2 separate regions of the Homo sapiens genome follow, and region 2 is linked to region 1. Evidence: fine-mapped expression QTL. A gene starts in region 1. The other region holds a variant in brackets. All regions are shown on one strand. Distances are between the middles of the regions. Region 1 holds the start of AMMECR1L (AMMECR1 like). Region 2 overlaps AMMECR1L (AMMECR1 like).

Region 1 (11,676 bases):
TCGATTTGAATGTCCGTGAATTCAAGAGCAGGCAAAACTATCCCACAGTGATAGAAGTCAAAATAATGGGTATCTTTTGGAGGGGATTAGGAACGGGGAGAAGGCACAAGAGAACCTTCTGAGCTGCTAGAAATATTCCACATCTTAAATTGGATGATGGTTACATGGATGGACACTAATGTAAGAATTGGTCAAGCTGTATACTTGAGCTGTGTGAATTCTAAACATGTATGTCCTCTCTCAATAAAAAAGCAATATAAAATGCTTGGTTACAGAGTAGCCATTTAGAGAGTATTTGTAGAATAAATGAATACGTGACTTGAGCTCTCCAACTCTGTTGCATTTATTTCATTGGTAGTACTAGTTTTTTTTTTTTTTTTTTTTTTTGAGACAGAGTCTGGCTCTGTTGCCCAGGCTGGGGTGCAGTGGCGTGATCTTGGCTCACTGCAAGCTCCACCTCCTGGGTTCACGCCATTCTCCTGCCTCGGCCTCCCGAGTAGCTGGGACTACAGGCAACCGCCACCATGCCTGGCTAATTTTTTGTATTTTTGGTAGAGACGGGGTTTCACTGTGTTAGCCAGGATGGTCTCAATCTCCTGACCTTGTGATCCGCCCGCTTCGGCCTCCCAAAGTGCTGGGATTACAGGCATGAGCCACTGCGCCCGGCTGCTAGTACCAAAAGTTTAGAACTTTTTAAATGTTAAATTCTACACCCAAGTGACATACAAAGTTTAAAACACATCTTCTCAGGCTGGGCGCAGTGGCTAATGCCTGCAATCCCAACACTTTGGGAAGCCAAGGTGGGAGGACTGCTTGAGCCCAGGAGTTTGGAGACCAGTCTGGGCAACATAAGGAGACTCCATTTTCTACAAAAATTAGCTGGGTGTGGTCGTGCGTACCTGTGATCTCAGCTATTTGGGAGGCTGAGACAGGAGGACTGCTTGAGCCAAGGAGGTAAAGGGTGCAGTGAGCTATGGTCGTGCTGCCACTGCACTGCAGCCACACTCCAGCCTGGGCAACAAAGCAAAACCCTGTCTCAGAAAAAAAAAAAAAAGAAAGAAAACCTTCTGAGTAATGTGGCTTAACAAACAAAACACTAGAGGGCTTATTTATTTAAACTACTTTATACCTCTGAAATATTCAACCCAGGTAGACAACTGTATATACAAAGATTTGTTTTCATCAGATAAGTACCGATCATACCTTTGACGTGCCCAAGTGGACACAGCGGCGGAGGACACACAGGAGACAGGGGCCATCTCTGGAGTCTCTCTGGGCCTGCCTTTTGTGAAGGGGAGAGCACAGATGCAGACCAAGGCCAGACTCACTTCCAGTTGAGAAATGGGACAAATGGGACAGATAAAATCTACATCACCCACCAAGATCCTGTCTGAAACCTTATTTCATTCCTACTAGTTAGCAAATGCCTTTAGCTCATCATTGATTGCTCACAAAAGGAGCAAATCCAGAAGAATGTGTATGCCCAGTATACAGGCTAACTTCATGCTGATCTCAACATTCTAATGCTCACGAGGCTCAGTTACTGAGCATTTTCACCACACCAATCTGATAAGGTTTATAATGTACAGACTTATTGGTATTTAAATCTCATAACATCCCTATGAGGCAGGAATGCTATAATCCCCATTTTACAGATAATAAGCCTGAGTCACTGATATAACTTGTTCACAGGTATTCAGTCAGGGCTGGGATTTGGACCTATGCAGGCTGATTCCACAGTGGACTCTTAACCATTACTACATATTCTTTTTTTTTTTTTTTTTTTTTTGAGATGGAGTTTCGCTCTTGTTGCCCAGGCTGGATGGAGTGCAATGGCGCGATCTCAGCTCACCGCAAACTCTGCCTCCCAGGTTCAAGCAATTCTCCTGCCTCAGCCTCCCGAGTAGCTGGAATTACAGGTATGCACCACCACGCCCGGCTAATTTTGTATTTTTAGTAGAGACGGGGTTTCTCCATGTTGAGGCTGGTCTCGAACTCCTGACCTCAGGTGATCCTCCTGCCTCGGCCTCCCAAAGTGCTGGGATTACAGGCGTGAGCCACCGCGCCCGGCCATTACTACATATTCTTAACCAACCGAGATAAGAAATAATAAAAGTTGTACATAAGGGAGGCAGACAATTTGTTTTGGGGTATTCTGATGAGTGGTATAGCTATGTCACAGCAGATTGGGGTGACATTTGAGGATCATGCAGAAGCCTTGAACCACCCAGCGTCTCTGCAGTTCTCCTTTCCCAAGTATATTATCTGCCCGCTGCTTGCTGGTTTCCATCTTCGTTTATTCAGTTGAGCCACAAATAATTGTATGCCTATTACATACCAGGTTTCTGTATTATGTACAGGAAATGAGAAGATAAATAAGAGACAGCCTCTTCCATATTTATGGCATATACTGCCCTCATTTTAGTTTCTTCCTCCTGTTCATAATTTCATTGTTTGTTTTTGCATCAGTTCAAACTGTTGCTTGCTTATGTGAGGTGACCTCAAAGTGACTTTTTGAAAGTCCTGACCCTTTGCCTTTCAACATCATTTAAGAACAGCAATAGCATCTGGATCTTCTCAGTAAAATGCCTTTTCAACAGCTCAAAGCAAGGCTTGTTTTTGTTTTAATTTGGGAATGTTTCAAGTGAAACTTAGTTCCATCATTTAATTCCTGGCAGCCCAATAACGAGGGGGCAATAACTCCCTTATCTGTGGGCTATTTAATGACTATATAGTACCATCCTGGGAGCAATAGACTAAGGCCTTCTTCCAGATGCCATGTTTTAAGGTTTTCAGCTGGAAAGACCGTCACTCCGTAAAATTTATTTTGATTATTTTAAGTCAGGATTTGGCCTTCTTATTCAGAAACAAAAAGAAAAAAACTGGCCCCTGGCTTTCTGCCTCCTGCACTTCTGGCTCTAGGCCATATGATCATCTAATTTCTAGTTTTTCAGGCAGACAGAGAAGGTTAGAAACTGGCAACCGTGTCCTCAACAGCAGATAAGCGTATCAAGTCTGTAACAGGAATTAAGAAGACTGCTATAGAATTTTTTTTTTAAGTCACCTCCTGTTTCACAAAGCATAGCTGTCTCTTCCTTTTCGTCCTCCTTGCCCATTCTCTTGGAGAAGTCCAGGTCCAAGAGGCACCAGACACTCAATTGACTAGGGTTTTGCTGCCTATAGGTAATTATGCTAAAAGTCTAGAGTAGTAGATCTTATGCTCGCATAATTATGCATTCTAGAGCAGAAGGTTTTTGCTGGAAAGCTTCACTGTTAGATATGATTTGCATTTTTTACTAGATACTTGTCTTTGGTCTTTGAGGACAAACATATCAAGGATTCCTTTGTGCATCAACAGAAAAGCAAAACACAAAACAGCCTATATGTGAGCATGGGGCCGTATTTTAATACAAGAAAGACATTGCTCTAGAACATGGCTCGCCTTTGCTTCAGGGCCTAGCAGTTTATTTTAGCCATAAGGGTAAGGGAGCAGGTCAGAAATGACTTTTAGTGTAATCCTATCTGTAATTAAAAATACAAATGCTGTCATAAGATCAAATGTTATCAAAAATCAGTATTTAAAATTAAATTTACCCCCAAATTTCTTTCAAAAAAAATTTGTAATGTTCTTTTTCAGTGAAGCCTTTGCACTGCTAGAGCTGAAGAATGTGATCAATCGGCTTGTTGAATAATCCTGCACAGTAGGTATTCCGCTGAAGCCAACTCTAGCTGGGGGCTCGAGAGCGAAAGACACAGATGGGGCCCTGCCGCCCCTCGAAGAGTCGGATGGGCGCGCCCGTCCCCGGTGCATCAAGAGGCTGGCCCGGCCAGGGGCGAGCGGCTGGCACCGAACCCCGCGCACTTCGCCGCGGGCGGGGCTGGGCCGTAGTCGGCTCGATTTAAGGCTGGTATCCAAGGCTGCGGCCGGTCAGGCGAGGCGAGGCGAGGCGACGTGAGCGAGGGTGCTTAGGGAGAACAGCCGCTGGCAGCTCAATGCTGGGTGGCTAACGCTCGACGGTGCCTGGCAGCAACCCGGCCGACAACCCGACGCGGATCCCGAGCTGCGTCGCGGACAATGCTGCGGGCCCGTCCCGGACTACGACTCCCGACGGGCTCTGCGACCGCTCCGGGGCGGCCCAGCGTGCACTGCGCCGGCCAGTTTTGACAGCCGGGCGCCCTACTCGGCTAGCTCTGCTCCCAGCCAGGGACGCTGGCCTTCTCGCGGCTTTCCCCCGATGTCTCTCTTTATTCCAGCTGCCTGAAACTCGGTCCCACGAATGGCAGGCAGCGTCCAAAATTCAACCCCGTAAAGCCAGCACCAGCCAATAAAGCGCACGGATGGAGGCCACGTGACAGCAGTGGGCCGGCCCTCCGGCTGAGCCCTGATCTCTATGGTTTCCGCGGCTCGCTAGAAGGAGTGTGGTCCACTGGAGGACTCCCTACATTCTTCCTCCATTACCTCACTGCCTCCGGTGGCTGCTGGGATACCGGAGGACTCGGGTCCCGGCTCGACTCAGTCCTCCAGCCGCCCGGGGAATACCTCTAGTTCTTCCCGGCCGCCGCCGCCGCCGCCGCCCCGCCGCTTCCTCCTCCGCCCGCCGGCCTCCTTCGCCCCGCCCCGTCCGCGCAGCGCGTCCGGCCCGCCCGCAGGCCAGCTTCTCTCGGGAGCCCCCACCCAGGCGCATGGCTCCATGAAGCAAGAGGAGGAGGCAGAGCGCGAGAGGTCCCGTCCGCCCCAGCCGCGTCTGGGCCAGGAGAAAAGGTGGGAAACTCGGGCTGCGCCGCACCCTTCTCCCCGCTGCCGGGCCAGGCCTCCCTCGGTCCGCCGCCGCCTTGCCCGCCGGGCCTGTTCTCGCCGGGGCGGGCGGCGGGGCCGGGAAGAGACCCCGCGGTCCTGGGGCGAGGGTCCGGGGGCAGCGGGGGGGAGGAGTCCCGGGCGGCGGGCGGGGCCTCAGGCCATGTCCCAGCGGAGGGCAGGGGGTCGGGAGGCACTGCCGGGGAGGGGCGGGCGGCGCCGTGCCCCGGGCCGCGAGGCTCGGCTCCCGCTCCTGGTCCTTGTCTGCACTCCCTCCAGGAAGCAGGCTCGCTCGCTGTAAAGTTTGGTGGTCTCCGGCGCCGCCTGGTGGCCCCCACCCACCGTCCCGCCGCCCCGCCGCCCCCTCCCCCGCCCGGCGTCTGGATTCCACCCCCGCGGCTCGGCCCAAGCTGCTCTACCCGTCGCTCCATCGTCTCCCCAACTCCCCAGCGCCCCGGACCCTCTTTCCTCATACCCTCGTTTCTCACCTTTCACCCTGTCCCTCGGCCCGCTTTTCCCCTCCCCGCTCTGTCCTGTCGTTTTCTTAACACTCTTCACACGCGCACTTTCTCCTCCTCCTCTTCTCTTTTTCGCACCCCTACTCTTGGGCCCTCCTTCCTTAACCTCCGCTGGCCCCCCATTCCATGATCCGTCCACCTGACACGCTGGGTTTCATGCCTCTCTTTCCCAGGCTGTGGGTTGTGCCCTTCACTCCTTGCCCTCCTACATTCCCTGTCCTGATCTGAACTCCTCTCCTTGCCATGCTCCCTCACCCTTATCCCTCTGGGCCTTATCCTCTTTCACTGCCCTCTCCTAGGATAGAGTGGGTGGGGCCTCTCCCACCCACAGGAGATGTAAACAGTCTCCTGTTTACTTACATCTTTGGGAGTAGCTCAATTCTCTAGTAGTGGGGAGAGTTGGTGAAGAGATCAGGAAGAGATTTCTTCGAGACTAAGGATGGATGACCCTTAGCAACAGTGACCGTCTCCTCCCGGCATAGCAAGATGGCCTGCCCTCAGGTCCCTGCCTCTGGCGTGCTGTCCAGTAATTCTTCAGTTCTGTCTTTGCAGAGGATTGGGAAATTTATTTGTGTTCTGAAACCGGCGGAGAGCTTTTAAATGGTCTCTTCTGGCCTGAGAGCAACTTTTGCTCTGCATCTGTGGTGGGGAAGTTTTAATGTGCGTCTCATGCTCGAGTTCAATAAATAAAACCTTTGATTCTCAGTGTCCTCCCTTCTTGCTGATGACGCTAAGGATGAGATGATTCAGGGCATGGGACTTCACGGCTGCCTCAGATTTAGAGTTTGCAAGGTTTTGAAATAAGGAGAGCCTGTTCTCTAGCTATTTGCTGTGCCCCCCACCCCCCCGAAATTGCTCTGTCGAGTTGTGATTTTTCAGAAACCGTATCTATCTTACCTCTGCACTACCTGGGTGTTTGTTCACTGCACCTGCATTTCCGTCTTAGGTACAGGAAGAAGGAATGGAATCGGAAGGAAGAAAATTCATTCCAGAGACAAAATAGCTCCCCTCCTCTGTTGTAGCTGTTCCTCTGGCAATACAAACTTTCTGCTTTCAGTGAGTATTATCTTGGGCATATTTAGAGTAGAGCATCGTTGTAGTTTTTGATTTTAGGCATGTGCTAGGATTTTGGGATGTAGGTGTGTTTTCATTTGTATTTTTCTACTTCCATGAGGGGGTCCTAATGTTGATGAAGTTTTTCCGCTTGTTCCCTTTTAAAATAATTTAAATATGCAAAGGCAAGTTTGTTTTTCATACTCCCATTAGAGTGAGCTAGGTGGTGGCGTGGCATGATCTTTCCTTTATATTTCTAGTTTGTAAGGTCTGGCTCCTCACCCTTCCCAAATGAGTTTCTCAATACAACCAAAGAGGTTGTCTTAAGTTTTAGGGTAATTAACTCAGAGGTTAATGCAGTTCCTGATCAAAGTCAATTATTGGTTCTCTTTTCTATAGTTTCAGTCCTGAGAGACTTTTGGAACATTTTGTCCTAAATTTGCAATAGTGAAGATATTTTCTTGAAAATCCCATCACAGATTTGAAGATAATTAAAATTTTTCACTGTAAACTTGAAACAAAGTTCTGGGGAAAAATTATGACTGCTGTGCCCTCTTGAGTTGATTAATGATAGTATGCTAACACTTAGGAGAGAGTTTTCAGAGTGTTTCACTTCTTGGTGAAGCCTCCCAGCCCCTCTGAGGGACACAGGGGATAAATGTTTTTATTTTACAAATGAAAGAACTGAGGCCCAGAAAAATGTGGCACCTTGCTACAGGTCACATAGAAAACAGAGGGGAGGTGAAAAGAGTTTTGACTCCTAGGTACATGTTTTTCTTTAAGCTAAGTTGAAATGAAAATGTATAGTTCTGGCCAGGCGCAGTGGCTCAAGCCTGTAATCCCAGCACTTTGGGAGGCCGAGGCAGGTGGATAACGAGGTCAAGAGATCAAGACATCCTGGCCAACATGGTGAAACCCCGTCTCTACTGAAAATACAAAAATTAGCCAGGTGTGGTGGCATGTGCCTGTAGTCCTCAGCTACTTGGGAGGCTGAGGCAGGAGAATCGCTTGAACCCGGGAGGTGGAGGTTGCAGTGAGCTGAGATCATGCCACTGTACTCCAGCCTGACGACAGAGCGAGACTCTGTCTAAAAAAAAAAAAAGAAAAGAAATTTGCAGTTCTTTATGTTTTTAAAAATCTATAAAGCTTAAAAACAATTGTTGCCAGGCATGGTGGCGTGCATCTGTAGCCCCAGCAACTTGAGAAGCTGAGGCAGGAGGATCGCTTGAGCCCTGTAAATAGCCACTTCAGCCTGGGCAGCATAGCAAGACTTCATCTCTTTAAAAAAAAAAAAAAAAAAAAAATTCTGGGCACAGTCACTCATGCCTGTGTAAATCCCAAAACTGGGAAGCCAAGGCAGGAGGATTGCTTGAAGCCAGAAGTTCAAAACCAGCTTAGTAACATAAGGAGACCCTGTCTCTACAAAAGGAAAAAATTTTTAAAAATTGGCCGAGTGTGGTGGTGCATGGCGGTGGTCCCAGCTACTTGGGAGGCTGAGGCAGGAGGATCTCTTGAGCACAGAAGTTCAAAGCCGCATTGAGCTGTGATTGTACCACTGCACTCCAGCCTGGACCGCAGACGGAGACCCTGTCTCCAAAACAAAAAGGAACAATTGTATAGGTATATCTGTGATTTGTGGGGGAAAATTTTCACACACCAAATGTTTTGGATGTGTGTATGATGGGGGTTTCAAAAATAAATGATTATTTGGTATGGTTACCAGAATGTATGTGGGTTTTTCTGACTGTTTCCTGGAATAGTTCCATAAGTAGGACAGAATTATAGCTCAGGTGCCATTTCAGTACCCATAATGTAATTATTAAATTGAATTTCAAGTCAACTCTGTGTCACAAAGGAAACAACAGCTTGTTCCCTTCTGTGAAAAGCTTGATTTGAGCAAACATCTAAATGCTAAATGATAACAGAAGAAAATGCAGAGACCCCCTTTTTCTTGGCCTTTTTCCCACCTCCCAAATCTTTATGAGATCGTGCCCTCGAATAAGCTGTTTTGAGGCTTGTCTTCAAAAGGTGAATCTAGATTTTTCCCCCCACCTTTAGGCTTTTCTAGATATTTTAATCTGGTGGTTGTGTGAAACCTAACTACTTTGACAACAGTTTTTAAAATTGGTATTCAGTATCTATCAAGATGTCTACAATAATAGCATTTTAAGCAAATTTAGTCTCTATTTTAGTGTATGTCTGTAAGCTTAAATGAGGACTCTAGTGGAATAAAACTGTACAACTCTCAAGGCAGCCAAGTATTTTTCTCTGTGTTTTCTGGCATCTCAGAATGAAAAGAAACAGTGGATGATTTATTAGAAGCCATTGCTCTCCAAAGAAGGAAACCATCAAGGTCATGAGAGTAATAATCCCATGTTAATAATATGATCTTTTAGATTACAAGGTCATTCTTAATGGAATTGTATTAGGAGGGCATTATTCCTCTAGAAATTGTAAGCACTCAGAGCTGTGTTATTTTTATAACCAACGCTACTTTTATCAGTGGGGTAGGGAAGTATTGGTAACAGCAGACACTTAATAGATAGTAGTTATGTGCCACAGAACTGCCAGGTGCTTTTCGTGTCTTTCACAGCTCACAAATAAACCTCTGTGGTAGCAGGAGCCCAAGTCCACAGAGATGTGAAAACTTGCCTGAGTTGCGTAGCTGGTACGTGGCAAGTCAGACTTGGGATCTGAGCTGAGATTGTAACCTCAAAATCTAGGTTCTGTCCCCTGAAGAGGGGAGCTGCTCTGGGAAAATGGGAGTTATTTTTTTCAGTGGACTTAGTAGCCTTGGAAGGGACCTGCAGTGAGAGAGGAAGGTCCTTTTGCCCAGCCAGACACATGAGTGGGGGCATCATCACATCTTTGTGTCAATAGCAGTCTCAATACCTGGTTTGTAAATACTAGCAGTGTATGAGAAATAGTTTGTATTAATCCCTGAAACCACAAATGGCCACCCAGGCAAATAAATTCTCCAGTGGGTAGTTCTGAAAGTGCTCTATCATTGAAAAAGGAAAAAATGATTCTTCCCAACTGCAGTTTAGATTGTCTGACCTATCAAAAGAAAGCCTTGAGCCACCTCGAAGTGGCACCTGAAGCCAGTTCAGAACTGACAGCTACTGGTATGTTTTAGCAAGGATGACAGCTACCAGCATACATTGGACCAAGAAGTGAATTTAGGTGATAGTTGACCTAATTTTTAAAATGAATTATCCACAGTGGCTATCCATTTTGCTATGAATAATTATTAAACTATCCCTTGGTTTGGGCTGAATAGAATGGAGATTGTTGATAAGAATAGGTGCTTGTAATTCAGTCATCCTCAGGTTCTGCGATACTCCACTGTCAGCAGGCAAACTTAAATTATTAGATGTGTAGATAAGATTGTTGGTGACAATCAGGAGTGTGTGTGTGTGTGTGTGTGTGTGTATACTGTATGTAGGGCACCATGTTAGGTGCAGTGAAAGATGAAACAGATGCCCTGCGGCCTCTCAGGCTCAGGGTGATGCCGAGTTCAGTGCTGGCTGAAATTTTTAAGTTGTAAGCTGCTCCAAATAGCAGGGCAGTGCTCAGCGTCCCCACAGAGAGGGAGGAAGAGTCACTGAGTGGCCCTTGTTGCAGGCCCTAATGAAGTTCAGGGCCCCCTTGAGTGTGTACATCAGGTGGAGAAGAGAGAACGTCCTGCAAGCACAGGGCAGATGAGGACGCCGCAGCATCACTGAGGAAGGCTGGTGACTTTAAGCACTAAGGGCACACTTTATTTGACACCTGCAAGGTTAGGAGGTCTTAAGAGGTAAAACAGTGGTTGCTGTGATTTCTGCCAGCTTTTTGTTGAGGTATGAGTATTGTTTCCATCTGGTGGAAACCTAGTTTTAACTAGCTTATTCTTATTGGTGGTCCTAATGGATGAACAGGAAGAAAAGGGACTCTCACCATGGCCCTTGAGCTGAGCTTTGTGCAAGTAACCAGCTGAAGGCCTGGAAGGGTCTTGGTTATATATACTTTCATAAAGCAAGGGTTTTTACACCTGATTTCAAACTTTGTCTTTTTCCTTCCGTTTTTGTGGAGAATGGGATCTTACTGTGTTGCCCAGGCAGGTCTCAAACTCCAGGGCTCAAGCTATCCGCCTGCCTCTGCCTCTCTAAGTGTAGGGATTACAGGCGTGAGCTCCTGCGCCTGGCTTCTCTTATTTCAAATGAACCAGCTTCACAGTAATTTGTACTATGCTCACAGTACCATCCTTGGTAGTTTTTATAAAGTTTGGCAGGGAAGTTTGGCGGGCACAGATTTAGAAGAGGTAAGTATGTCATTAAGTGGAGCATTTGTTTTTGGCTGATCAGAAGGATAGTCTGATCTATTAGAATGCTATTATTCTGAAGTACCTTACCTAGTACTCACAAAGCCGGGCTGCTGGAGGACCAGGTGTCTCTTGATCACTGTAGGGCAGTGCTGAGAGCTGAGTCGGGAACTACTTAGTTGTGGATGAGATACCTACATTGTTGGAATAGGACTAGAGAATCTCGAACCTAAAGAGAAAATTTCGATGAAATTTGTTGATAGTGGTTGATGTTTAAGAAGTCTTTGTTTATTACCAGCACCTTGGTTTACATTCTTTGCCTGTAGTTGTTATATATTAGTCCATTTTTGCATTGCTATAAATACCTGGGACTGGTAACTTATTTAAAAAAAAGGCTTAATTGGCTCAGGGTTCTGCAGGCTGTACAGACAGCATAGCAGCATCTGCTTCTGGGGAGGCCTTGGAGGTTTTACTCATGGCGGAAGGCAAAGCAGGAGCGGGCACATAACATAACAAATGCAGGAGCAGGAGAGAGTTGGGAGGAGGTGCCACACACTTTTAAATGCCCAGATCTTGAGAGAAGGCGCTCACTGTCATCACTATCAGGAGTGCAGCACCAAAGGTTGGTCCTAAATCATTCATGAGAAATCCACCCCCGTGATCCAGTCAGCTCCCACCAGGCCCCACAGCTAACACTGGGGATTACAATTCAGCATGAGACTTGGGTGGCGACAAACACGCAAACTGTATCAAGTTAATATTTGCTTTTTGTTGGCAGATAAGTAAAATATTGGACCCCTCAAAAAACTGCCTTAAATAATTCCATAGAGGGATGGGAGGTGGAGAGAGTAGGTAATGCACAGAGGTATAGATGAAGTAAGATTGGCCATAGGTTGGAAATTTTTAAATATTGGGCTCATTATACTATTTGTGGAGTATACTATTTTCTCCACTTTGGTCATGTTTGAAATTTCCCATAGATTTGAATTTATGGAATAAGCTTTTAAAGA
Region 2 (11,676 bases), 21 kb after region 1:
CAACCTGACCATATTGTAGAATTCAGTAGGTACCGAACTTTGGATCACAAATCATTAAACAATATTATACATGGCAAAGGGTGTAAACATAGTCCCTACTGTTTTTTAAAGAACTCAGTAGTCGGCCAGGCGTGGTGGCTTACTCCTATAATCCCAGCATTTTGGGAGGCCAAGGTGGGCGGATCACAAGGTCAAGAGATTGAGACCATCCTGGCCAGCATGGTGAAACCCCGTCTCTACTAAAAATATAAAAATTAGCTGGGCATGGTGGTGCATGCCTGTAGACCCAGCTACTCAGGAGGCTGAGGCAGGAGAATCACTTGAACCCAGGAGGCAGAGGTTGCAGTGAGCCAAGATCGTGCCATTACACTCCAGCCTGGTGACAGAGCGAGCCTCCATCTCCAAAAAAAAAAAAACTCAGTAGCCTATAAGTTCTTCTGATGGGGACGTTAAAGGTAGGGTGGATCGAGCAGATTTTGTCTTTAAAAGAATATCTAGAAGGGTACCTTTACATGTTGCTTGTGCATTCTGTGATACGTAGTGCAGTTTTCCTTCTTTCTTGGAATTAGTCTGATTTTGAAAATAATATGTGAAACACAGTATTTGTTGGGTATGAGCCTAGAATAGAGAAAAAATACCCGGTGAAGTGTATATCATGAGCAAACATGGAAAACGATTGCCTGGTTGGTTTTTATTTTGCTTGTGCTTAAACTTTTTCAAGAGCAGTGTATATGTGGCATAATAGCAAACCTTTTAGCCACCTCTTTTAGGTCATAAACCTAACACACTCTGTACAAGGAGGCATACCATGTTTTGTAATGGGGAGGTGTAAATAATAACTTAAGTAAATAATTAAATTACTTTTGCCATTTGAAAGTTGGTTGGAAAAATAAAAACTTCGGAGCACCTAGCATAGTAATTTAGGGGATTTTCTTTGGTTTTTCAATTTGATGAAGTTGGTTTTATCTGTTAAGAATGAGGCTGGGCACGTTTGCTCACATCTGTGATCCCAGCACTTTGGGAGGGCAAGGTAGGTGGATACTGGAGCCCAGGAGTTCAAGACTAGTCTGGTGGCGAAACCTCGTCTCTACAAAAAATACAAATTCAGCTGGGTGTGGTGGCACACACCTGACAGTCAACAGCTAGTTGGGTGGCTGAGGTGGGAGGATCACATGAGCCTGGGAGGTGGAGGTTGCAGTGAGCCAATATTGCGCCACTGCGCTTCAGCCTGGGTGACAGGAGTGAGAACCTGTCTCAAAAAAAAGAATGTGCAAGAATAACAATAGTATATGCATGAGCAACTTGTCTGCCCTTCCTGAAGGAACAGCTCCTTCCTTCCTTCCTTCCTTTCCTTCCTCTTCCTCTTCCTCTTCCTGTCTTTCCCTTTTTATTTCTTCCTTAAGACAGGGTCTCCTCCTGTCACCCAGGCTGGAGTGCGGTGGTGTGATCCTGGCTCACTGCAGTCTTGACCTCCTGGGCTCAGATGATTCTCCCACCTCAGCCTCCTGAGTAGCTGGGACTACAGGCGCATCCCACACGCTCACTTAATTTTTGCGTTCTTAGTAGGGATGAGGTTTAACCATATTGCCTAGGCTGTCCTTGAACTCATGGGCTCAAGTGATCCTCCTGCCTCAGCCTCCCAAAGTGCTGGGATTACAGGTGTGAGCCACCACACCCAGCCAGCTTCTTTCTCACTGTCAATTTTTTACCATAGAAAACAGGACTCCAAAAATCATCAGATTGAAGGAAGATCACACAAAGGAATATAAGTTGCAGAATTTAAATTCCTCTCTTCCCACAGAGCAGCCTTGGGTACCAGCACTAGGCCAATAGGCTGGTCTAAGTTGGAACCATGTTTGTTCCTAGATAATTATACTGGGGTAACATCTGACAGGAAGGACGCAGGAGCAGGGAGCCTGGGGACAGCCATTATGGCATGTGTCGGGCTATCATCTCATGTCTCAGAGTCTCCACGGGACTGGCAGACAGACTGGGCGCCAGGTACGTGGGGGTCAGTGCCCAGGGCTTCCTCTGCCTTAGCAGACTCGGCTGCTTCTCGAGTCCCATTTCTCTTCTTGCACGGGCCATGTGAGAGCATGCCTTACTCTTGCATGTGCATTGACCTCAGTGTGGCCTTTCTCCTCCCCAGACTGGGATCAGATCCAGACAATAGACTCCTTGCTCAGGAAAGGTGGCTTTAAAGCTCCAATTACCAGTGAATTCAGAAAAACGATCAAACTCACCAGGTAAGCCATTGTCTTGTTTTCCTTATCATTTCAATTTAGTTGGGGTTGAATGGAGGATAATTTTGATGGGATGGAGAAGAAGTGTTCTCTGTGAATGTCCCTAAATCAAAGAAGTGTGGGTGAAGTTCACATTTTGAGGAAGCAGTGGCAGCAAAGGCAGAGACTCTCCCAGCATCCTGTGTGTCTCCATAGCTGAGCTGGGGGCACAGTTGGAGCAGGGCAGGTCTGCCCTGCAGGCTGTGGATGGCTTTGCCAGACCCACGTGGTTGGGAGGCTGAGGGGGAGACTGAGATTAGGAGACAAGGCTCTCTGGAAGTCCAGAGTCAGTTGAGGTGCTGCTTTCTGACTGCACATGTAGTCAGACGGCAGGAGATACAGGAGAGTAAGAAAATGCTTTTACAAAAAGTTAAAAGGAAATGCCTCTCATTTGTGGGGAATACTTCTAGGAGGAGGCTGCCTAGTGTAGTAGAATGCAGATGGACTTGGAGTTGGAATCCCAGCTCAACATGTACTAGCTGTGTGACCTGAGCCAGTTATTCTGCCTCTCTGAGCCTGTTCCCTGTCTGTAAGATGTGAATGATAATACCTTAGAGTTGTTTGAGGCTGTGCTAAGGTAATGTATGGAAAATTTCTAGCCTGTGGCCAGTCAACATTGTAGGTGATCAGGAGATGTTAGTTCTCTTCTCATCCCTATTGAAATCAGAAACACTGAGAGGTTTAGCTTCTATGGGCTTTTGTGGGCCTCTTTTGGGCCCCTCATCTGTAAAATGCTGAATAATCATATACTAATCTCACAGGTCTGTTTGGAAGATGACCCAGTGTTTTTTAAATGCTTTGGATTCCAAAAATTTTTAAAAAACAACAAAAAACTCTTCAAATACAAAGCATTATTATTATTATTATAATTTATTTGAACAGCCATTTCCCTGTCAAAATTCAGGAATAATCACCTTGCAGTGGAGGAGTGATTACAGTGGGAAAGAGATGGCTCTGGGTAAGGATTGTCACACCCAGCTCCTGTGGTCTGTAGTAGGCTCCATAGGTTTGTAACACCCCATGCTTCGCATCCTGACTCATGGCTCTTTCCAGAGCACAGCCAAAGTGCTATGAATTCTGTTCTGACGACCCTGTGATATGGCATATTCATCTGGGGAGTGAGACCTATATAGCCCCAAGGATCCTTTAACCTGCTTCAGCAGACTTTGACCCAGAATTAGGTATCTGTGTCCCTTTTAGTTATAATAACTTGTTTGTTGCTCTTACGCGAATTGAGGTTGCATTTCTGTCAAATGTATCACATTTACTCTGGAAGTAGATGTGCAGTTTGCACTGGGTTTTGGTGCAGCCATCTTCCAATCTGCCACCCGAGTAATTTGACCTTGAAATTCTTCATCCAGACCCCAGTAGCGGATTGCTTACGAGCAGCCTGATGATAAGCACGTGTAGTGTTTCAAGGTGGGATGTGCTGAAACACATTCTCGGGGGAATTGTGATTGTGCTTTTTCATCTTGTTCATTTGTAATAACAACATTGTTTTCTTGTGCTGTCTTTCATTTTCTGTAAGTAAGATTGCTCTTGGTCTTCCATTTTATTCTTTCAAAATGTGGAATAAGCTTTTGGTTTTTCTCTGCTGAGTGACTTTACAAAATGAAGCGTTTGGGGTTCCTAATACCCTTTCCTGTTTCCTCATACAGGTACCGAAGTGAGAAGGTGACAATCAGTTACGCAGAGTATATTGCTTCCCGACAGCACTGTTTCCAGAACGGCACTCTTCATGCCCCGCCCCTCTACAATCATTACTCCTGACACACGGCTGCATGACCAGTCCCACCCCCCCGTGGCCACCAATGGCTATGACATCATTGGAGCAGATGCCTCCTCTTCCTGGTCCAGTTACTTCTATTACTGCACCATTTTATGATGCTAGCTTCCGTTGCCAAGTCTGCCTCCCGCTGACTGAGGGAGGGTAGGGTTACCTTGAACGAAACAGAACTTGAGGGGCCCAAGCCTTATCTCAGCCTTTCCTCAATATGGGGTTCCGTTGGATTGGGGCTCCTCCATGACTAGTGGGAATTACTGTGGGTTCAGAAGACCCTTGTCTGGTATTTGCCACATGGGGTATTGGCCACACGCTGGAAGCTGAAATTGATGATCCCTGAAGGTTGAACCCACACACACCCCTGCAGCCTCCCCAGATGAAGTAGGTGTATTCCCCTGGCAGTCTGGGCAACGGAGACCAAGAAACATTTTTAGGTTGTTTTAAATTCCTTTTTTTAAACTTCCAGTTTATTGCGTACCAAGAGTTGATTACAACCTCCATGCTTCATAAGCGGACGCCACGTTAGGGTTGGACGTGGGCACCACGAGTCCTTTGAGGCTCCTGGACAGAGACCCACATCAAGATCGGAAGCCCTTTGGGTGGCGTTGCAGATCTCATTGCTCAGTAGGCCGTGAAGATTTTCATCCTCATCCCACTCTCAGTTGGATTTTCTGGCACTCTTCCTGCATTGAGTCTCCTGATTACTGAACAGAGCTCCGTCATGTAGCCTGCTGAGGAATGGAATGGAATGGAGATGCCCACAGGAGGTCCTGATGTCATCACTGCACGCAGGTGTGAGAGGAGAGACCTCTTCTGCACCGCCTGGCTACCTCACTCCTCTGCTGGTAGCAGTGCCTATAGCTGGACCTAAGTTCTCAGAAGCGTAGATGTGCAAACAAGCGATTGAGTTGGGCTTTAGGAGGACACATCATAGGAGAGAATCCAGGGTCTGTAAGCTGGTTTTCTTTTCAGGTGACATCCTGAGGGGCCTGTAAGCAGGGGAGCTCCTTTTTCTAGTTTGCCTGTAGAGGTGGGAAGACTGTTGGTGTTTCTGTCCTTTACAGGACATTAGGAAACAGTTGTGTAATTACACAAGGTGGACCTTTATCTTGCCTGACATGCTGGGAATCTTCACCCCACCAGGGCAAATTTCCAAATAGCTCATTTTATTCTAGGTCTTTCAAACTTTCATGTGACATATTTCCCTTTCCCATTGTTGCTGATTTCCAAATCGCTGTCAGCAATTTTTTCCTCTCTCCTTGCCTATTCTTCACTCATTTGGTGGCAAAGTTCATAGAACTAGGGGACTTGGAAGATGCTTTGAAAATATTGTTACAAAGGCACTGCTAAAATGATTCACAGGGAGAGTGGCCAGTTGGAAGAAGGATCCTAAGGATGTGACACTGGTTTTCAACAACATGCTTAGAGAACTCATGAAGTGGATTGGGTGTCAACCCAGTGAACATGTTTTTATTTAATTTATTTTTTGAAGTTTATGTGGTGATGGTGTGGCTTTCCGAAATGGGCAAATATTCAGAAGATCTTTTGCATTTTCTTCTGTCAGGAATGGGGAAGGGGAGTGGGGGCACAATCTGAGAAAGGACACCTGTGCTGTTCTAGGCATCGCTGGCAAGTTTGTGGGAAGGGATGGGCAAGGGTGAGTGGGTTTGCTCCACACCGTCCTGTGCTGCTCGAGAGGACCTGGGACGTGCGAGGGAAACGTGGGTGACGGTGCCTAGGCTGCGGCCCTTCACTGCTGTGCTGGGTTCCTGCAGCCTGCTACGTTTCCCTTGGCAATGTAAATGAAGATGGAGGGGTCGTTTCGTGATTTCCTGCTGCTGAGAATAAATGTCTTGTTAAAAACGTGGCAACGGTTACTCTTAGGTGCCATGGATCGATGTCAGGGTGGTCAGCTCTGGACTAAGCCACCCACCTCCAATTTGTACAACAGTATTGATACATAGGGCTACACTCATTACTGTTCAAGTGTTCTATGTTAAGAGTTGTGTTTAATTTCTAAAGATTAAAAAAAGCAAAAAAATTGGTGCTAAACCTTCACCCCTGAGCACGCTCAGTGAGACTGGTCATGCAAGCATTTACAGTGCCATGCTCCTCAAGCCGATTTTTTCTTGTAGAAATGTTGCCCTATTTGTCTTCTCCAATGTATGGTATGTTATTTTATTTTATTATTTTATTTTATTTTAT[TTTATTTTATC/C]GAGGGGGGGTACGATACCTGCCATTTAAGAAAATGAATAGAAAATTTTAAAACCCGAGAAATGGGGAAAAAAAAATCAGTGCACAAGAATTGGGCTGGTTAGGCCCAGCACCACACTGAAGTGGGCTCAGTGGTTTTTGGAGTGAAGAAGCCTTACTCCCTGCACATTCCCTCATGCTCCCACACAAGTCCAGCAATGGAAATGCTTGGGTTCCTCTTGCTTTGTCAGGGGACTCAGGAGTCGACCAAGGGAAACCATTTGGCCCCGTGAGGAATGGGCATTGTCAGTATCCGTCCTGAACGGGGCCTAGTCAGGAAGCGGTCTAGAAGTGTACGGTCACGGTCGCCTCATGAAAGTGTGTAGCAGGTGGCTCTCAGGAAAAATACCAAGTCTGGATCATCCATGTGGCAGCTTTGCATAGGGAGAGGATAGCTCCGAACTGGAACTGAACTGCCTTCTCTGCACGCTTGACCAAAGCAGTGATGAGGGCGGCCAGTACCTGCGGTGTGCGTGGTAGGTTTAAAGAAAAGGGAATGTTTTCTGCTGAGTGTTTCCTTTGTCCTTGGGCTGCTCGAGCTGGACAGTAGGTAACCACTGTTTTCAAGGACCAGCCCAATTTCTCTGGCTTGGTTCGGAGTTCGTTTCATCCCTAGCTGTGAGTGCCTTTTGGTCTGGAAAGTTGGCTTGTCTCATAATACCCACAGCTAGGACATTCTCTCTGTAATTATGAATTGTCCTTGTTTTACATTAAAAGAGAATGTCTTTGATCACTAGAGTCTGTCGGTGTTGGATTATTTCCACTGTGAGATTCTTAAAACTTTTTTGCTTCATAATAATAAAACAACTCATGTTAGAGACCCTTTCAACATGAAAGGTTTGTAGTTGAGACATTACATATATTTTATTGTTTATAATAAAAATCATCTATACAAAAGAAGTCCTGGGTGTTAATATTTTGCACAAGATCTGTTTTCCATGATGTGTTGACATCTACAATTTCACTAACTGTTGACGTTATTTTCTATTGAGATTCTGGAGCCTAGGGAGCTATGTGTTCTTTTTGTTCATTTCGTTCTTACTTCCCTGAAGCAAGAGACTATATGGCCTTCAGTGCAAAGACTTCAGACCAATTCTTTGTATTACACTTGGTTGCCTCTTGGCTATATAACTTCTGAGTGCAAATCATTGAACACTTTAACGAAGTATTGTAGAGAATAAATCATAATGGATAAAAATCGTTTTGTTCTGCTTTTTCTTTTTTAACCATGTGACTTGATTTATATGGAATGGTGATAACAGTTGTTTTATTTTTGAAGACAGGCAACAAGATAGTATTCGGTCAGCTTGGATATTTTGTGTGGTGCTCGTGACCCCACCCTTGTGTATATTTTTATGGTTGGTGGCAATGTCACTGGTGTTTTAGAGCCAAGTTCCATGAGCAATCATTCATTAGCCCTTTAAGATTTGGGTTTTTCCAGACAGGTTCGTTGTTTTTGTTAGATTTTCAAATGAGACTGACCTTACCAAAAAAAGCCAAAATCTCTTGGAGAGGAAAAAAACACTAAAATTTAATATAATTTGGTGATGTTAATTAATTCAAGCAAAGACCCTGGGACATACTGGTGCAGTCTGACCTAACCAGTGAAGTTTTGTTTTTGGATGGCCCAGAAAAGATGAGATGTGTTTGGAGGAAAGGACATCTTCAGTTTACGCTTTTTTTTTTTTTTAACTTGGCAAAAATAATTCAGTATTCCATCTGGGCAGCACCCTGGGGTCTGCTTGTCCCTCCCTGGCTCCAGCCCACTAACCCAACCCACCCAAAGATCAGCAGTTGACACACTATTTGCAGGGAGGTAGAATTTTTTTTTAAGGTACTCAATTCTGAGGCCCTTAGCGCTTAGCAAAGCTCAAAAACACATGGCTACAGATAAAAACGTGCTATCAGGGTTAGGTAATTTTGAAAACTGACTACCAGCAGCTGGTTAGACGTTTACAGGCTTTGTTAATAACTGATGTGTGTGAAGAGGAATTCGTTTCTTCAAGAGAAATTAATGTTCTAGAGATTACATTCCATAGTACCTGTAATTAAACAGCGTAGAGTTGCCTATGACTGATTTTGGGGGAGAGTGTGATTGGTGATAAAACAACATTTGTAATTTTAGCCATCACTGTTGACTTCTGGAGTGTGAAATAAACCATCTGATCAGAGGTCAGTGGTGCTAATTGTGGGAGTGGGGGTGGGGGAGGTGCTCTACAGCTGCTTTTAGATCAATCTAGGTCTGTAACCTTGGCTTGAATAATCTGACTGAAATACTAAGTGGGCTGGTTGAATGGCTTGACTGAACCAATGCTGTACAAGAATCAGAGTAGCAGCCTGAGGAATGTAATGCAAGTCCTGTCCCTTCTGTGTCTGTTTTCCTCATTAAAATCAAGCTCAGACAAGGATTCAAGGGCCTCTTCCTGCCGCTTATGCATTATTTCTACTCACACAGATTCTGTATGCCCTGGAAAATTGGTGGGGGGAGGACTGCAATTTCGAAACTATTGGAAAACAGAAAAGAGAGGTCTCCAGTTCACCATCAGTCCCTCAAGTTCCTGCTGCCAATCAGACCCCCTCCCCCAGTATGGCTATTCTGTGATCACATCGTGGCTCCCAACCAAAGAAATAACCCAGGGCGGGTGACAGCTAGAATCTTTTCTGGCTGGCAGTCCCACAGGCCTAAGCGCAAATCTTGGTCCTGCCATTTATAAGGCATTTCCTACTTTGTGACAGGACTGTGAATCTCCAAAGTAACCTGACCTTAGAGAAGTCATAGGTAAAAAGTAAAAATAGTAAATGTTTTGCCCAGACCCCAGCACATGGTGCAGTGGCTGGGCAGCTGTGGTTATCTGGCCTGTCACTCAGTGCTGGGTGTACAAGGGAACACCGGCAAGCATCAAACCCTCCGGAACCTTCAGCTTCTCTGAGCACGTGAAAGGGGGCGTGGCCAGCCCTTCAGGTCTGGGCAGGTTCCTTAGAGAAGCAGTGCTGAAGCAAAGAGCATGCCCTGGAGGAGGGAACTTCTCAGGTGGTGGGAGACCACATTGCCGGCACTGCAAGACAGCAAGACGCTGTGGACGAGCCCTCGCAGGAGATCAGGCTGCACAGGCCAGACAGGATTCCCAGGACTGCCTTCTAAAGGTTTTCTTTTTCTTTAGTTTTAAAATTTTTACTTTTTAATTTTTTAAGTCTTTTTAAAAATTATTATTTGAGACAGAGTCTCACTCTGTCGCTGTCGCCCAGGCTGGAATGCAGTGGCGCGATCTCGGCTCACTGCAACCTCCGCCTCAGCCTCCCGAGTAGCTGGGATTAAAGGCGCCCGCCACCACGCCCCGGCTTTTTTTTTTTTTTTTTTTTTCTGTAGAGACGTGATTTCACCATGTTGGCCAGGCTGCTTTCGAACTCCTGACCTCAGGTGATCTGCCCCCCCCACCCCCACCGGCCTCCCAAAGTACTGGGATTACAGGCGTGAGCCCCCGCGCCTGGACTTTGCCTTTTTTTTTTTTTTGGCAGGGTCTCTGTTGCCCAGGCTGGAGTGCAGTGAGGCAATCATAGTTCACTGCATCCCTCAAGCGATCCACCCGCCTCGGCCTCCCCGATCCCTGTGACTACAGGCACGCGCCACAACGCCCGGCTAATTTTTGTATTTTTTAGAGACGAGGTCTCACTATGTTGTCTAGGCTGGTCTTCAACTCCGGAGCTAAAGCGATCCTCCAGCCTCGGCCTCCCAAAGTGCTGGGATTACAGGCGTGAGCCACCGTGCCCGGCACAATTCATTTTTTATTAAATCAACAGAGTTTACAATATGACCATCTAAACATTGTTGACTAATGAGCTAAGATATTGTTGACTAATAAGCTATGATTATTTACCTTATTGTACAACCTTTTGTTTTCTCCAGTGTCGAAAACAGCATCATTTTTTATTTGCTTTTTTTTTTTTTTTAATATATTTTTTGAGACGGAGTCTTACTCTGTCGTCCAGGCTGGTGTGCAGTGGCGCGATCTCAGCTCCCTGCAACTTCCGCCTCCCGGGTTCAAGCGATTCTCCTGCCTCAGCCTCCCCAGTAGCTGGGATCACAAGCGCCCACCACCATGCCCGGCTAATTTTTGTATTTTTAGTAGAGATAGGGTTTCACTATGTTGCCCAGGCTGGTTTCAAACTCCTGACCTCAGGTGATCCCCTCGCCTCGGCCTCCCAAAGTGCTGGGATTACAGGCGTGAGCCACTGCGCCCGGCCGTCATTTGCTTAATTTTCTACGCATCACCCAAATGTTCCAACAGACGTGTGGTAAAAGCCTCTGAATATCATTGTCCGCGTACTCAGAAGTATCAGATAATCCACCACAAATCAATAAAATTTTAGAAGTTTAAGTCGGTGAAGGAAATTGGACCCGGTACTTTCGGAGCCGGCTGCCCTGCTCTCCATCAGCAGGCGTTCCTGCATCTCATCTGACCTCCTCCGTCCAGAAAGGCGTAGGGACCTGCCCCAGGACGTCTGCGCGGCGAGGAGCATGGGAGAAGAGAGGGAGTGCAGGGCGCCCCTCGGTGGCGGGGAGCCTCCAGGACCTCACCAACCGGTCCCCTCGCTGCGCCCCGTCCGGCTCGCACTCCCGGCCCCGCCCACCCCTCGGGGCCCCTCCCGAGACCACGCCCCTTCCGCGGCCGTTGCTCCGCGCTTCTGCTTCCGGCGGCGCTGGTGGTGGCGCGCGGCGCGGCGCGGCGATGGCGGCGGGTGGCAGCGATCCGCGGGCTGGCGACGTAGAGGAGGACGCCTCACAGCTCATCTTTCCTAAAGGTTGGGCTCGGGGCTGCCAGACTCCCCCGCGCCACTTCGCGTGGTCGCCGCAGGCCTGGCGTTATGCGCGCTTCGCCCAAGGCCCTGCCTCAGCGGCGGCTTGGGCAAGCCCCAGCGCGGCGTGGGGCTGGGGAGGGAACATGGCCTTGGGAGGGACCATGGCCTTGGGAGGGACCGCCTGGGCAACTGGGTTATTTTATGTGATAAACTGCGAAGTTCCGGGGACCTGTGTCAAAGATAAACAAAGCCGGACACTCAGGTGGTAAGGACAGATTTTTAAACAGTAATATACTGTTGCACTAGGGAAAAGAGCCCAGCGTGAACCGAACTCAACTTCGATTAGTACAGAACCTCTGGGCGTTTTAACGGAGAATTAGGGAATAAGGATGTGGTGAGCGGGAGCTCGGGGGAGTCGGGGAAGTGAGAAATGTAAAAAAGCGGGAAGAGGAGGATTGGTCCGTGTGAACGCAGCTTGGTTTGTTGACTGGCGCACCTGTCGAAGTTAGGCCCCTACCCTCCCACAGAGGCAGAGAGACAGAGTCCTATCTTCAGCTGTTG

The links.
Region 2: its variant is fine-mapped to the expression of AMMECR1L in whole blood (INTERVAL, PIP 0.96).

The regions. Positions count from the first base shown.
Region 1 is chr2:127,878,896-127,890,571 of GRCh38, reverse strand. It overlaps AMMECR1L (AMMECR1 like), which reads left to right and starts at 4,616. Exons shown (of 8, transcript NM_001199140.2): 1 at 4,616-4,762; 2 at 6,260-6,369. It overlaps LOC107985944 (a long non-coding RNA gene), which reads right to left and starts at 3,454. Exons shown (of 2, transcript XR_001739707.2): 1 at 1,204-3,454. It also overlaps the pseudogene LOC107985803. RefSeq lists silencers at 3,736-3,785, 4,496-4,665, 4,676-4,725 and enhancers at 4,016-4,275, 4,286-4,365, 4,150-4,745.
Region 2 is chr2:127,857,470-127,869,145 of GRCh38, reverse strand. It overlaps AMMECR1L (AMMECR1 like), which reads left to right. Exons shown (of 8, transcript NM_001199140.2): 7 at 2,150-2,246; 8 at 3,941-7,516. The coding sequence ends at 4,052. It overlaps POLR2D (RNA polymerase II subunit D), which reads left to right and starts at 10,991. Exons shown (of 4, transcript NM_004805.4): 1 at 10,991-11,118. The coding sequence starts at 11,046. It also overlaps the pseudogene LOC107985803. RefSeq lists a silencer at 10,847-11,156 and an enhancer at 11,387-11,556. The variant TTTATTTTATC/C (reference allele first, on the strand shown) is at 6,271.